Homo sapiens: one gene and its partners. The protein of the gene in region 3 purifies or fractionates together with the protein of the main gene of each other region. This does not show direct contact. Each region holds a gene or a part of one and is shown on either strand. Other genes may lie near its edges.

Region 1 (4,198 bases), on a different chromosome or scaffold from region 3:
AAAATCAATGTATCCTCAACTGATTTTTAAAAACCAAAAAATTGCGGGAAGAAAATGTACCTTGCTAGATCAAAAGTTTTCCACACAACCAACTTGAGGTCAAACAAACCCACGCAGAATCTTCAAAGAACTTCAGGCTGACCTAAAGCATATTTTTTGCTACAGCCAAATTAGAATACTTGCCCTATTTAGTTGTGAATATCTCAGTATAAATGACTTTACAAAAAATCTGGTAACTTTACAGACAGAATTTTACAACAGTGAAATTTGTTCCATAATATAAAATCCTACCAAATGAATAGAATCTATCATTTTAAGGGCATCAGGGATTTCTGCCTGTTGAAGAGTGGAGGATTGAGAAAGGAGCAGTGGCTCATGCCTGTAGTACCAGCTGCTCAAGAGGCTGAGGTGGTAGGATTGCTGGAGCCCAGGAGTTCAAGGCTGCAGTGAGCTGTGATCACACCACTGCACTTCAGCCTGGGCAACACAGAGTGACACTCCATCGCATGCATGCATGCAAACATACATACGAGTGGAGGAACACCTGCCATAATTAAGCCACTTAGAGAAAAAGAGACTTAAGTTAAAACAAAATTCAACATAGAAAAACCGTCACTGCCTATACAGCACTCATGTCAGAGTGTTCCATGAGGTCCCCCAAAATGCACCTACCGTCCCAGCCAGGATGTCATGGGGGCAGCAGTCCAGAAGGTGACTCTTGCAGACACGGTCATCTGTAAACTTGACCCTCTGTCTGGTTTCGTCTCCTGAAATTCATTTGTGGTTTTAAATAAGACAATATTATCACATTAACCACCAAAAAATAACTAGTATAACAATTCACCTGGATGATTTGCAGACTATCATTTCTGTGTTCTCCCCATCAAATGCAATGAAAAGCTGATCTAAAGATATTTACAACTGGAGTGGAATACACATTTTTTTGAGGCTAGTTATATCATGGAGAATCACACTTAATGAGATCTGACTCCATCACTGTACCAAAGAAGTCAAGGAGTCAGACGTAAACAGCTGAGCACCAAAAGGCCATTGGCTCCACATATACATGTGGCAATGAGACTGCAAAACCCAAGCTAATCAGAGGTCCATGAACCACCAAGGGTGACTTATAGAGCTGGTAATTTCCACCAACAAAAGCTACTTATTAATCTAATCTTTTTGTTATGAACAAATGCAGAGGCAGTATTTTGCCCAAAATTGAATGAAGAAGAAAGCTTTCAAACTCTATCGAAGACTGTTAAATAATCTAGATCTATTCTTCCTACGTCCCTTTCGTTCCCACCCTTAAAAAAGAGAGTTGCTACCTGGGAGTCACTTTTAACAAGACAATACCAAAAAAAGCAAAAAAGGAACTAGGTTAGTCAATACACACTGTGAGCTCCAACACATACTGTACCCATCTGCATTCTTCAAGACCTCAGCTGCAGAATTTTATGCCCGCTGTTGAAAAGTGTTAAAGGAAAAGTTTTCTTGCCCACACCTGCAGTAAGGAAGTCGGGGGAATGATACATAAAAGTAAAGGTAAAGTGGTATGTGACAAATTTTAAAGCTAGTCTGTGTATACAACACAGAGCTGTGCAACGCTAGAGGAGGAATATATTTTAGGATTTGCAAGCATCCAGGATTAATGTAGTGTCTTTTTATTGAAAATGTTTTCTTTCTAAACTACACTTTTAAAGTTACTTGTGAAAAAAAGCAAACACTTTTTTGTTATAACAGCTTAGAAATTGGTTGTGACTCACGGCTCGATGAACATGAGGCTTTCTGCAACTCCCTTGCAGATTGATGTAGGCAGGCAAAGATACACTGAACCTTTATAAATAAAATAGAGGGGCCACAATTGTTCAGTTTGTATGAAATAAAAATATGGGAAGCAATTCAAAAGCAACTCAATATACAAAGAAAGCTAAAAAGCACTTATTCACCTATGAAATAAAGTGCAAATAATCTGCACAGCCCTGAGAATGTGCCAGTGTGAACTTACAACTTCATTACTCAGCAGAAAAGAAAACACAAACCACAGCAGGTATATAGTTTTGCAAAGATGCAACCGCTTTCTCCTGTGACAACCATCATGATCTTGAGCTCCTCCCTACACAGTACAACCTACCTAACGACTGTCAAGCGCTGGCTACACAGAGGCTCTCCTGTGTGCTGGGGGGAAGGGGGCAGCTGGAAAAGTACTTGGCAGAAACCCACGTTAGAAAAGCTCAGTTTACGGTTCCCCTTGCAATGGTACAGAACCAGAGCGGGCCAGGTTTTCGAGGCCCATCCGGCTCCCTCGGGTGTAGCTTCTTCCCAAGGAGCCTCGGAAGAGTTCTGCCACCCGGCTGCCAGCGACCTGGAGCCCACGCTGATTCCAGCCCTCCGCCGACTCCACAGTTCGCGGAGGGGCACGGAGCCGCGGCGCCCGCCGGGGAGGAAGTAGCAGGACGGTACATAGGAAGGAGGCTGAAGCCCCATCCATGGCGCAGACTCCGAGAGAGGAGCCCGACCTGGACCCACGGCCGCCTCAGAGACGCACCGGCTTAGACAAAGGCCCGGCGCCTGCGGTCGGAGCGCGGGGGAGGAGGAGCGATGCCCCGCGCAGGCGCAGGCGCAGACGATCGCGGCCCCCGCCTCAGGCCGCCCGGCGGCCTCGCCTCACTCCCACCCCAGACCCTCGCCTGGTTGGCCGCTCTGACTCACCGTCCCGAGCCGTGCCCATGAGCTGGTCCAGCAGGGCCCGCATCTGCGCCTGGGCGGACATGGTAGCCGGCGGAGGCGACGGGGTCGGCCGCGACGACTTCTCTCAGGCAGGCGGTGGCAGCGGCGTCGACAAACGATGGTCGCGTCGGCCTCGAGCCCACTCGGCTCTTTCCCGCCGCGGGGGACGCCGGGAGGAAGTACGACGGCGCCGGCGCACGCCCTGCTGGGAAATGTAGTTTCTGGGGTGGGTGCTTAGGGAGGCTGAGGCTCTGAGTGGTCGCAAGTTGTCCAACGGCGGAACCAAAATCCCAACCCTGATTTTACTCTAGACCCCCAGGACCTCAAACGAGTCTCTACGGAGGGTAAACTACAATAAAATGAAATACAGTCAATCAAAAACAAGATGAATCCGTGCTTTTTCTAAGCTAGCCATGAAACCGTGAGCATATTATTTAGCTCCCCGACGCTCGTTTTTTTAAATCTGTGAAATGAGGGTTCTAAAGGTGCCCCTCATATGATTTTTGTGAAAGTTAAATAAAGCATGGAATTTTATTTATTTATTTATTTATTTATTTAGAGCGAGGGTCTTGCTCCGTCGCCCAGGCTGGAATGCAGTGGCGCGATTACCGCTCACTGCAGCCTCGACCTCCCCGGCTCCTTATCCTCCCGCCTCAGCCCGGCAAAGTATTGGGATTACTGGTGTGAACCACCACGTTTGGCCATCAGTCATGGCATTAATATTAGGTTCTATGATTACAACCTCGTGGTCGTCCTTTTGTGAGCTCATGGTCTACTGTCCCAGGGACTAAAGAAAAGGCATATGTAAGCAGTTATTTTATGTGATAATAGAATTATAGCATGCACTTATGTGTGCATAGTCTGGCATATACTTCTATTATATTAAACCTCTATTATTTATTTATTTATTTTTGAGACGGAGTTTCGCCCAGGCTAGAGTGCAATGGCGCGATCTTGGCTCTCCGCAACCTCCGCCTCCTGGGTTCAAGCGATTCTCCTGCCTCAACCTCCCAAAGTGCTGGGATTACAGGCATGAGCCACCACGCCCGGTCTTTATTTTTTATTTGTTTATTTTTTTTTTGAGACGGAGTCTTGCTCTGTCACCCAGGCTGGAATGCTGTGGCGCGATCTCGGCTCACTGTAAGCTCCGCCTCCCGGGTTGAAGCGATTCTCCTGCCTCAGTCTCCCCAGTAGCTGGAATTTCAGGCGCCCGCCACCCCCTCCGGCTAATTTTTGAATGTTAAGTAGAGACGGGGTTTCACCATGCTGGCCAGGCTGGTCTCAAAGTCTTGACCTCAAGTAGCCAGCCACCATGCCCAGCTGATTTTTGTATTTTCGGTAGACACGGTGTTGTACCGTATTGGCCAGGCTGGTCTTGAACTTCTGACCTTGTGATCTGCCTGCCTCGGCCTCCCAAAGTGCTGAGATTACAGGCGTGAGCCACCGCGCCCTGCCGTATTTTATTTATTTT
Region 2 (3,580 bases), on a different chromosome or scaffold from region 3:
GGCGCAGCACCCCACTCTTCGGGCGCCCCTACACCTCCCCGTGCCTGTGAGTCCTCTGATGCCGCGTGAAGAACCCCAGGTGACGGAAGCCTTTCCCACAGTGGCCGCACTCGTAGAACCTCTTCGTCAGGTGCAGCCTCCGGTGGATGCTGAAGCCCTTGGGCCACCGGAAGGACTTGCCGCACTCGGCACAGGTGTAGGGCTTCTCCCCGCTGTGGACCCTCTGGTGGTGGCTGAGGTTCTCCTTGGTCCGGAAGGCTTTGCCGCAGTCCGCGCAGTAGAACGGCCGCTCCCCGGTGTGCACCAGCTGGTGTCTGAGAAGGTTGGACTTCTGCTTGAAGGCTTTCCCACAGTCGCCACACGAGTAGGGCCTGTGCTCGGTGTGGACCTTGCGGTGCTGAGCCAGGCGGTCCTTCAGGCTGAACGCCTGCCCGCAGGCCTCGCAGCAGAAGGGCTTCTCGCGCGTGTGGTTCTTCTGGTGGCGCTGCAGGTTTGAAGCCCACCGGAAGGTCTGGCCGCACTCGGGGCACTCGAAGGCCTTGGTTCCCGTGTGCACCGTCTGGTGAGCGAGCAGCCGGCTGTGGCAGCTGAGCGCCTTCCCGCACGTGCCGCAGATGAATGACAGCTCTACTGCGCGCTGCTTCCGGCGCTCTCTGCGGCCCGGCCGCCGCCCACAACGCTGCGTGAGCACCTGACACGGGAAAGCCGTGGGCTTGGCGTCTGTCCTTTCTGGAGCAGCTCTGGGAAGCTGCCCGTCATCCGTGTCCAGCCTGAAGCCCTTCCTAAAGCTGCTTCCTTCCCTGGCTCTTTCTCGCCGCACGTGGGTTTTCTTGTGAGCCCAAGCTGGATGATCACAAGGTCTCTTGGGGTCTGCAGACTTCCTTGCCCCTGTGGAAGGAACAGACACCCTTACACAGAGCCAGTGGCCCACAGCCAGGCAGTGCCTCCAGCAAAGCCCAGAGGAGGCCGGGCGCGGTGGCTCACGCCTGTAATCCCAGCACTTTGGGAGGCCGAGGCGGGTGGATCATGAGGTCAGGAGATCGAGACCATCCTGGCTAACAAGGTGAAACCCCGTCTCTACTAAAAAAAAAAAAATACAAAAAATTAGCCGGGCGCAGTGGCGGGCGCCTGTGGTCCCAGCTACTCGGGAGGCTGAGGCAGGAGAATGGCGTGAACCCGGGAAGCGGAGCTTGCAGTGAGCCGAGATTGCGCCACTGCAGTCCGCAGTCCAGCCTGGGCGACAGAGCGAGACTCCGTCTCAAAAAAAAAAAAAAAGCCCAGAGGACCCTCCTGCTGTGTGCGTGGACTGGCTTCCATTGACTCAGCTCATTCCACATGGTTACGAGTGATCAGGAAAACTCGTTCAAAGAAACACAGATGAGCCACAGGTATCAACAGCGGAAGCCAAGATGAGCTCAGATGCTTCCCCAGCCCCGGTGGTACGCAGGCCACCCGGCACTGCTGACGTGAGGGAGAGCCGACACATGCCTGCCAACCAACAGAAGCAACTGGGCCAAGAGAATGTCCTTTCACCCTGTCCACGCCAGCAGGCCCCACTCATGCGGGTGGAGGTGGTGCTAGGATGTCGTCTAGAAGACGGGTAGCTCCACCTGATTCTCAACCACTCAGCCTCAGAGCCATGGCTCCCTTCAGCCGGGGGCTCCACACACCCGGGGATGCGACACCTCCCCAGCCGGGGGCTCCACACACCCGGGGATGCGACACCTCCCCAGCCGGGGGCTCCACACACCCGGGGATGCGACACCTCCCCAGCCGGGGGCTCCACACACCCGGGGATGCGACACCTCCCCAGCCGGGGGCTCCACACACCCGGGGATCCGACACCTCCCCAGCCGGGGGCTCCACACACCCGGGGATGCGACACCTCCCCAGCCGGGGGCTCCACACACCCGGGGATCCGACACCTCCCCAGCCGGGGGCTCCACACACCCGGGGATCCGACACCTCCCCAGCCGGGGGCTCCACACACCCGGGGATGCAACACCTCCCCAGCCGGGGGCTCCACACACCCGGGGATCCGACACCTCCCCAGCCGGGGGCTCCACACACCCGGGGATCCGACACCTCCCCAGCCGGGGGCTCCACACACCCGGGGATCCGACACCTCCCCAGCCGGGGGCTCCACACACCCGGGGACCTGACACTCCAGAGTCAGGGGCTCCACACACCCAGGGACCTGACACTCCACAGTCGGGGGCTCCACACACCTAGGAACCTGACACTCCACAGTCGGGGACTCCACATACCCGGGGACCTCCCAGGGCTCGTGTTCACATAGCTGCTCCATCCCACTCTGAAAATGTAAGTAAAAAGCAAAACCCTGCTGACAACTGCCCCAAGAGCAACCCTCACCTAATGGAGGGAAGCATGGCCACTGTCCCAGTTTTGCAAACAAGGACGTGGAGCAAACTCCTACCCAGAGCCACATACCTGGAGACCCTCACGTGCAGTCAGTACCAGGCCTGGGACCCCACATGGCCATCACAGGGAGGTCAGACACCCACACCAATGGCCTCCGCCGGACAGCACCTGGGTGGCTAGGTGCAGGCTTCAAGTGTCACTCCAGCCTCAGGCCCCTCCGAGCTGCAGCTGTATGTCATCCTGCAGCACTATGCCTTTCGAGCCCCACCCCCGGCCAGTGTCCATCAGGGCAGGAGCGTGGCTGCCCCTACGTCTCTAATGCCTGTCTAATTTAGAGAGCAGCTGTGTGTCTGCTCTCCCATGGGAAGGACACACCCTTGGTCACTGCAGCGTGCTGAGCACTACCCAGGAGCTGTGGGCCACAGGGACGGGGCCCGCCGAGCCCAGACAGCCCAGCACTCACCTGGCCGGGGTCCCCTCTGCACTGCCTGGAACTCAGGTCTCTCCCGGTCTTCAACCCACGGCTCCTCCCACTGTTCCAGGCGAGAGACGAGGTCTGGTCTGGGGCTGCAAAATCCTTCTCAAAGGAGAGAAAAGTTTCTGTTTTACTTGTACTGAGGACAAAGTGAGGGTCGAGGCTCAGAGCAGTTGTGCATCAGCCTAAGACGCCAGGCCAGCCCTCGGGAGGCCCTGGAGAAGCCACCCCAAAGCAGAGATGACAGGAAGGGAGGGGCCTGGACACCAAGGCCCACGGAAGGCCCTGGCAAGGTCAGAGGAAGGAAGATGAGGCTGCCTCCAGGGAGCCCGAGAGAAACGCTGAGTGGGCCCCTCTGTCTACATAAGCCAATAACTTCTAGCTCCTGAGCCCCCTCAGCTGGGAGGCCCCACTACTGTCCTGGACGAGCTGGGCCCAGAGGCAGCGGCAGAGCTCTCCCAGCACTCACCCTGTGCTCACGCTGCGCTCAGCCCGTGCTCACCCAGAGCAGCCACACTGCTGAAGTTGTCCAGCATCACGTCCCGGTAGAGGGCCCTCTGGCTGGGTTCCAGACACGCCCACTCCTCCCTTGAGAAGTAGATGGCCACGTCCCTGAAGGTCACTGGCTCCTGCAACACACACAGCTCCCGAAGAGGCCATTCCCAAGAAAAAGAAGGCTCAGCCCACAGGTCTGGGTGGGAAGGGGGAATGGGAGTGGCCCTG
Region 3 (3,950 bases):
CCTTAGTGTCTACTTGCAGGACCCTTCCTCCTTCCCTAGGGCTGCAGGGCCTGTCCACAGCTCCTGTGGGGGTGGAGGAGACTCCTCTGGAGAAGGGTGAGAAGGTGGAGGCTATGCTTTGGGGGGACAGGCCAGAATGAAGTCCTGGGTCAGGAGCCCAGCTGGCTGGGCCCAGCTGCCTATGTAAGGCCTTCTAGTTTGTTCTGAGACCCCCACCCCACGAACCAAATCCAAATAAAGTGACATTCCCAGCCTGCTCGTCCTGTCCTGGTGACTGGGGAGAGAATGGGTTCTCGTTCTGGCCGGGACTATAGAATTTAATGGTAATGATGGCCAATGGTGCCCCCTGGGATGGGCAATGGATTTTACTGGCCCCAGGCATAGTCATTCTGGTGGGGGACTCAGGACCAGAGCTGGTTCAGCCTAATGGTGGGGGGGCCTCTACCACCCTGATAATTATAGCACCTCCAACCTGAAGCAGCCTCAGAGCTCAGCCAGCTGCCTGACCACACACAGGATGCAGCTCGGAGCTGGCATGTCTCAGCCAGGGCCACACAAGCAGCTAGTCCCAGCAAATCTCATCAGAGCCCCATGTGGATTTAGCAGGAAAGGGGAAATATCTGAGTTAAGGGCATTAGAAAACTGATGGGCCAGGCGTGGTGGCTCACACCTGTAATCCCAGCACTTTGGGAGGCTGAGGTGGGTGGATCACTTGAGCCCAGAAGTTTGAGACCAGCCTGGGCAACATGGTAAAATCTCATCTCTACAAAATGTGCAAACATTAGCAGGGTGTGGTGGCGGACACCTGTAGTCCCAGCTACTTGGGAGGCTGAGGCAGGAGAATCGCTTGAGCCCGGGAGGTTGAGGCTGCAGTGAGCCGAGATCGCGCCATTGCACCCCAGCCTGGCTGGGTGAGACAGAGTGAGAATGTCTCAAAAACAAAAACAATAAAACCACTGGCCACCGCCCCCGCCCCCCCCCAAAAAAATTGGCAAGGAGCAGGAGACCTCAGAAGTAAAAAATGGCAATATCTTGCTTTTTTTTTTTTTTTTTTTTTTTGGCTCACTGCAACCTCTACCTCCCGGGTTCAAGTGATTCTTGTGCTCAGCCTCCTGAGTAGCTGGGATTACAGGTGCATGCCACCATGCCCAGCTAATTTTTGTAGTTTTAGTAGAGATGGGGTTTCACCATGTTGGCCAGGCTGATCCCAAACCCCTGACCTCAAGTCATCTGCCCGCCTCTGCCTCCCAAAGTGCTGGGATTACAGTCATGAGCCACCACACCTGGTATCTTACCTTTTTAAAAGGAGTCTGTCATCCACCACAATGGTCTAGGGTTCTAGGGTTCTCCCAGCCTCCCTCAGCTGTCTCCTTTCCCTACCTGTCCCTGTGGAGGAGTGCCAGGCAGGAGTGGAAAGAATGTGGCAGGGAAGGATCCATCCAAGTCTAAACTGGGCAACCATTTTGGCTTAGCGTCCAGGAGTTGTGGCACCTGTCCACCGCCAGGTGCTATGACGTCGGCTCTCCCAGAACCTGGAAGGAGCTGAACTGGTCAGTTGTAGGTCTCTGGAGACTACAGCTGCTGGGAGGCTGCTCTAAGCTGGCTCCTGAGGGGCACACCACCGGCCAGGAGGAGGCCAGAGGACTGCTCCAGGACAAGAAGTACAAAAGGCATGCAAGCAGGTCTGGCAGGCAGAGGGCAGTGTGGGCGGGTGGGGGTGCTGTTCACAGTGGCCCCCACCTGGCCAGGAAAGCCAGGACCCACTGCCACATGCCTTCCCTGGCAACAAACAAGGTCTTTCCTTCCCCAGGAAGGGTGTGTGTGAGGGACACAAAGGCAACGGAGCCCAGATGAATGGCAGAGGGAGGTTTAATGGTGTCACCTTGTCTTGCTAATGAGCCAACACAAAAAAAAAAAAAAAAAAAAATGCAAGTAAAAAAAAGTTTAATCACACAGCACTTTATACAGATATCGTAAGCAGTAGGCATTCACATCTCCACATGTACAATGCACTGGGAAGCACAGCCCCACCAGTCACTCCGGGTGTTTCTCAAACAAGATACCGACTCGGTTCCAAATGCCACGGTGTGTGGTCCGGCTCCATCCTCCCGCAGCTCTGCTGGCTGGGCGGTCACAGCACAGCACAGGTGTGGAGCCCACTTAAGGCTGACAAGACGCATCATGCTTTGGCTTTTTTTTTGTCTTTTTTTCTAATAAGAGTTAATATCTTTGCTTTTGAGTTTTTTTTCCAACCTTAAATATTACATACATACACCAAAAATTACATAGCTGCAATGTGCTCAACAGCATCCTCTCGGCCTGGAGCTTCACATTATCAAAAGCTTAGAAAACTTGTAAACCTCTGGGCCTGTCTCTGGGCACTAGGAGAGCCCCCGCCGGCCGTCCCCTTCGGATTGAGCCTGCAGTTTGTAAGCGAAGGGCTGACAGTAGGCCTTCTAGTCCAAGAGAGGGCTGGCTCGCTTGGAGTTCAGTGAGCTGCACGCCTGTCCCAGTGTGACCATGTGATGGGGGAGGGGCCCTAGCACTTGCCCTGGCCTTGTGCAGCTGCTCTTGCCCCCAGCAGCCTCCGACAGAAGAGCAAGGCACCTATAGCTGTTGCTTTCCCTGCAGCTCCCTGGTCCTCAACTCCATGTGCATGTGTGAAGGCCACCACCTCTCCTGGGCGTCACCCGGAACCTAGCCTGGTCCCAACCTCTCTTAGAGAGCAAGTTCAACAGGCCTGAGGGCTATAACGTGGTCGACAGGCCATGTATAGCCGGGAGTCAGTGACAGCAGCTACAACTCCCAAGGGATAGTGTTGACGCTGGAGGACTAGGGAGGACCTGGGTGGTGGTGGCAGCAGGAGGGTCTGGGACACAGGGAGGCTTGAGTTGAACTAAACAGGTTGAAAGGGACCAGGGGAATTGTTGGCGCAACCCACACTTCATGCAAGGCACATGTGCTCTCCTGCGGGTCTGCAGGGAACCGGCCCAGAGAGCCCCGCGGCAGGCCCTGGAACACCCGCCTCTGACCTGAGAAGGGGCAGCAAGGGAGCAAGTGCCGGACATTCTGCTGGGGTGACAAATGGAAAATCGGCAACAGGGTTCCGATTTTCTTTGCCACAGGGGACCCGCCTGTTGAAAGCTCGCTTCAAAATAGAAACGGCAGCATCTCAACACACTTCTTGCACTTCAGCATCAAACTCACCTTGGGGAGAAGAGGGCAGTGGGTTTGCAGTGGGGACAGAGGGGCATGGGAAGAGGGGTGATTCCGGGGGGGAGTGAGCAGGCGGCGGCTGGCCTCTCCCACGGTGATGCTCTTTCCTCTGTGCCTGGCAGCTACTTGTCCTCTGTGCACTCCGGCATGCCTGCCTCTAGCAGGGCAGCCCGGAACTGCGTCAGGACACCCCGGATGCTCTTGATGAAACCCTTGGAAAGTGGGAAGAGGGGGAAGCCGATGTCAGGGTAGCCACTCTTCTCAGGTAAGAAGCTCCGGTAGCTCTTTCTCCGCTTCTTTGGTTTCACACTGGGTGGCACCGATGCGTCTGGTGCGGTCTCCGAAGTCTGGTCTGTGTGGTCCCTGCTAGCTGAGGCCAGGCCCTGGGCACCGCCCTCTGAGTCTGAGCCCTGGGAGGCCTCTCCTGGGGCTGGCCCTCCATCCTCAGGTTCTTGTTGGCCGGAGTCTGACAGCTCGGCTACAGCTGGGGGCTCTGGCGAGCTGCTGGCCTTGGGCACCCCGTTGGGCAGTGCCTGGGCCTTCTCCAGCAGGGCATGGGTTTCCAGCCAGGACTCGATACGGTTCACCAGCCGCCAGCCACCAGTGCTAAAGTGTTGCCTGATCTCCTGCTCAAAGACCTCGGGGGGCCGCCGCACCAGCTGGGTCATGGACTGCACCACGCGGATCAGCGCCATCTCATTGTAACAGCGACTGTTTTCATAGCCTTCCTGCAG
Region 4 (3,580 bases), on a different chromosome or scaffold from region 3:
TAATTGGAAGTGACCTAAATATTTCCATATTAGAAATCACAGGGCATGGGAACTTGTGATTTATAATGGTTGATGTTTTTTTAAAAAATACAAAATAATACTAGAAAACATTTAGAGGAGGAAAATCTTGTAGAAGTGACTTGGAAATGTCATTAAGAAATCATGAAAGGCTAGGCGCAGTGGCTCACGCCTGTAATCCTAGCACTTTGGGAGGCCAAGGCGGGCGGATCACAAGGTCAGGAGTTCGAGACCAGTCTGGCCAATATGGTGAAATCCTGTCTCTACTAAAAATATAAAAATTAGCTGGGTGTGGTGGCATGTGCCTGTAGTCCCAGCTACTCTGGAGACTGAGGCAGGAGAATCACTTGAACCCGGGAGGTGGAGGTTGCAGTGAGCTGAGATTGTGCCACTGCACTCCAACCTGGGCGACAGAGCGAGACTCTGTCTCAAAAAAAAAAAAAAAAAGTCATGGAGCTGGGTATGGTGGCTTATGCCTGTAATCCCAGCACTTTGGGATGCCAAGGTGGCCAGATCACTTGAGGCCAGGAGTTGGAGACCAGCCTGGGCAACATGGTGAAACCCCATCTCCACTAAAAAATATTAATAGAAAAATTAGCTGGGTGTGGTGATGCACGCCTGTAATCCCAGCTCCTCAGGTGGCTGAGGCTGGCAGGTGGAGGTTGCAGTGAGCCGAGATGGTGCTACTGCACTCCAGTCTGGGCAACAGAGTAAGACTGTCTCTAAAAAAAAAATAATAAGATCATAGGCCAGTCTCAGTGGCTCGCACCTGTTAATTCCAACACTTTGGGAGGCTGAGGTGGGAGGATCACTGGAGCCCAGGAGTTGTAGACCCATCTGGGCAACATAGCGAGATTCTGTCTCTATTTTAAAATAATTTGTTTTCACTTAAAAAAAAAAACAAAAAAAAAAACCAAGTAGAAATCATGGAGAAAGGTGAAATTTTACACATTTTCCACAAAATGGGGAAAGATTATGGAAAGAAGACTTGTAGGCCTAATGATTATTTCTGGCAGTACTTCAAATTGAATTATTAAACAGATTTTGACAGCAGTTGTACTGTATTAGAAACCAGATAATATAAAGTTTAGGATAAAGCTGTTTAAGAATGGACTCAGTAAATATTCTCCTCATTTATTACTGTTTTTAAGAGAGTCGTAGCTGAGAAGCAGGAGAAAAGAAACCAGGAACGGCTGAAACGAAGAGAAGAGAGAGAGAGAGAAGAAAGGGAGAAGCTGAGGAGGTATGGAGTAATGGGCCAAGTAATTGAAGTTGAATCTCTGTGGTTCTAAAAAGAGATATAATTGATTTTAAATTTTAGATGGTGATAAATCTGTTATGGGACGTGGGAAACTTCTGCTTACTTTAAAAAATATTACTGTGCGAATTATATAAATGTTTAATTATACAAGTATCGTAACTCTTGGCCATTTAACGGAATGTGATTTCCTTTAAAATGTGTGGAAGAGTGAATAAAGAATGCTTCGTATCTTGTAAGATTTATAACAAAATCCAGCCGGGCATGGTGGCTCACGCCTGTAATTCCAGCACTTTGGGAGGCCGAGGCGGGTGGATCACGAGGTCAGGAGATCGAGACCATCCTGGCTAACACGGTGAAACCCCGACTCTACTAAAAATACAAAAAATTAGCTGGGCGAGGTGGCGGGCGCCTGTAGTCCCAGCTGCGCGGGAGGCTGAGGCAGGAGAATGGCGTGAACCTGGGGGGGCAGAGCCTGCAGTGAGCTGAGATCGGGCCACTGCACTCCAGCCTGGGCGACAGCGAGACTCTGTCTCAAAAAAAAAAAAAGATTTATAACAAAATCCTTTTCTAGCCCTTTGATTTTTCATATTGGGCTAGATTTGCACCAGGTTAGCATAGAATTATTATTTTTTTTTTATGATGTATTTTGTTAACAAAAGGTTTAAGGGTGGTTGTTTCATTGAAGGGTTTTTTTTACATTGAACTTTGGTTAGTTCCTCAATTCTAGGAGCCATAAACTATTAAAAAGTCTAAAAATATCTAAATGTATATAATTCCTCTTACATTGGTATTCATTAATTGATAAAATCTTAGAATTCTAGTATTTGGAATGTCTAAACATTCTTCTGAGTCACTTTTACCATTGGCAGCTAAAATCACATAGCATCATGGTGGCAACATTTTTTTGTAACTCATCTTTTTAACTTCAGCAGCTTTAGGATGGACAGTTATATCACAAATGATTTGCCTGTAGTCCTAATTTATAGTGTTCCTTGAATCATACTACATTTAAATGTCTTAAATTTAAATACCTTCTCTTTAGAGTTAGCAGATGTGCTTAAGCTAATTAAAACCCTTTGTAGTATTAGGTTATGCTCACTTCCTTCGATCTTTGAGCATATTATATACTCAGTATATTTCAAGAAGTTTAAACAGACTTCGTTTGTGTCACATGGCTTATAACCAGGTAATCTTTTTGCACCATAAAGACAGTGAAACAAAACTACATGTCTATATGGTCCCTTTTTAGGAGAAGTGATGTCAGTCCTCTATTGAGAGAGAGAGATTTCTTCATTTACTGTAAAGTTTACCTCAGAGCTTTTATCTACTTGTTCTTTTGTGTATAGTAAGTCCTTATGGGAATATTGCCCAGTATTCTAATATATAAGTGGAATTTTCAGTAATATTGGGAATCTCATTTTAAGATTCAATTGAGGTGACAGTAACATGGAACAGAATTTCTTTGCAGGACTACATTTTCACATTTGTAGATGATGAAAAAGTATATCACATCTTACTCCTTTGTTTGCCAAATGGCAAGTTTCTTTTGACAGTGATTATATAATGCAAATTTCAGAAACATTAAAAAAAAGTCGTTGAATCTGTGAGCTTAAAGAAATATGGAAGTATGGAAGATGAGGAAATTAGAAACTAGTATAAAATTATATAAGATGGGATAAAAGAAAAAAATCATAATCATTTACTGGGTGCTTATTGTATGCCAGACACTGTAGTAAGGAATTTATCCATATTCATCTAATCTTTATAAACCCCACCCCCACTCCACCCCAGTAAAATTTATATTAGTATCCCTCTTTTGCTAGTGACAGAGTAAGCTGAGAGAGGATATGTAACTTACTTAGGTCACACAGACAGTGAATGGTAGAACCAGAAATAAAACTCAAATCTGGCTGATCTCAAAGTCATGCTTTCAACAATGCTATATATCATCCAAAAAAAAATAATAATCCCTGTGGTGTCCTACTAGCCATAATATTCACTTTACATTTCATTGAGCGTTACCTGTGTGCTAGGAAATGTGACAAGTGCCTTAAGTAGAGTATCTCATTTCATTTGAAGAAACACATTGTAAGATTGAACTAGGTGTTCTAGAGATTATAGTATGAGGTTGTAGCTCCAAGAGTATGTAGATCTCAGACCATAGAAATTTCACTCTTTTCCCAGAAGGGAAAAAAGAAATGACAGATATAAAAGAATTTTTTCCAAGCTGGTAAGTGGTTTCTGGAAAATTAGCAAGTTGTGATATGTAGGTTGAGCATCCCAAATCCAAAAAATGAAATC

The links.
Region 1: the proteins of UBE2O (region 3) and LUC7L purify together in Homo sapiens (affinity purification with mass spectrometry; 4 studies listed by BioGRID and IntAct, with this or other methods). This does not show direct contact.
Region 2: the proteins of UBE2O (region 3) and ZNF707 purify together in Homo sapiens (affinity purification with mass spectrometry; 4 studies listed by BioGRID and IntAct, with this or other methods). This does not show direct contact.
Region 4: the proteins of UBE2O (region 3) and LUC7L2 purify together in Homo sapiens (affinity purification with mass spectrometry; 5 studies listed by BioGRID and IntAct, with this or other methods). This does not show direct contact.

The regions. Positions count from the first base shown.
Region 1 is NC_000016.10:226,570-230,767, forward strand, and holds the start of LUC7L (putative RNA-binding protein Luc7-like 1), read right to left. Parts: upstream 2,881-4,198; 5' UTR 2,771-2,880; coding exon 2,710-2,770; intron 1,834-2,709; exon of another isoform or gene 768-1,833; coding exon 673-767; intron 1-672. UniProt on the Homo sapiens protein: May bind to RNA via its Arg/Ser-rich domain.
Region 2 is NC_000008.11:143,690,979-143,694,558, reverse strand, and holds part of ZNF707 (zinc finger protein 707), read right to left. Parts: exon of another isoform or gene 3,487-3,580; coding exon 3,360-3,486; exon of another isoform or gene 3,327-3,359; intron 2,963-3,326; exon of another isoform or gene 2,960-2,962; coding exon 2,846-2,959; intron 2,315-2,845; exon of another isoform or gene 2,266-2,314; coding exon of another isoform or gene 2,229-2,265; intron 889-2,228; coding exon 29-888; 3' UTR 1-28. UniProt on the Homo sapiens protein: May be involved in transcriptional regulation.
Region 3 is NC_000017.11:76,387,605-76,391,554, forward strand, and holds the end of UBE2O ((E3-independent) E2 ubiquitin-conjugating enzyme), read right to left. Parts: coding exon 3,339-3,950; 3' UTR 1,852-3,338; downstream 1-1,851. UniProt on the Homo sapiens protein: E2/E3 hybrid ubiquitin-protein ligase that displays both E2 and E3 ligase activities and mediates monoubiquitination of target proteins. Negatively regulates TRAF6-mediated NF-kappa-B activation independently of its E2 activity.
Region 4 is NC_000007.14:139,408,394-139,411,973, forward strand, and holds part of LUC7L2 (putative RNA-binding protein Luc7-like 2), read left to right. Parts: intron 1-1,169; coding exon 1,170-1,261; intron 1,262-3,580. Other genes in the region: FMC1-LUC7L2 readthrough protein, read left to right, coding at 1,170-1,261. UniProt on the Homo sapiens protein: May bind to RNA via its Arg/Ser-rich domain.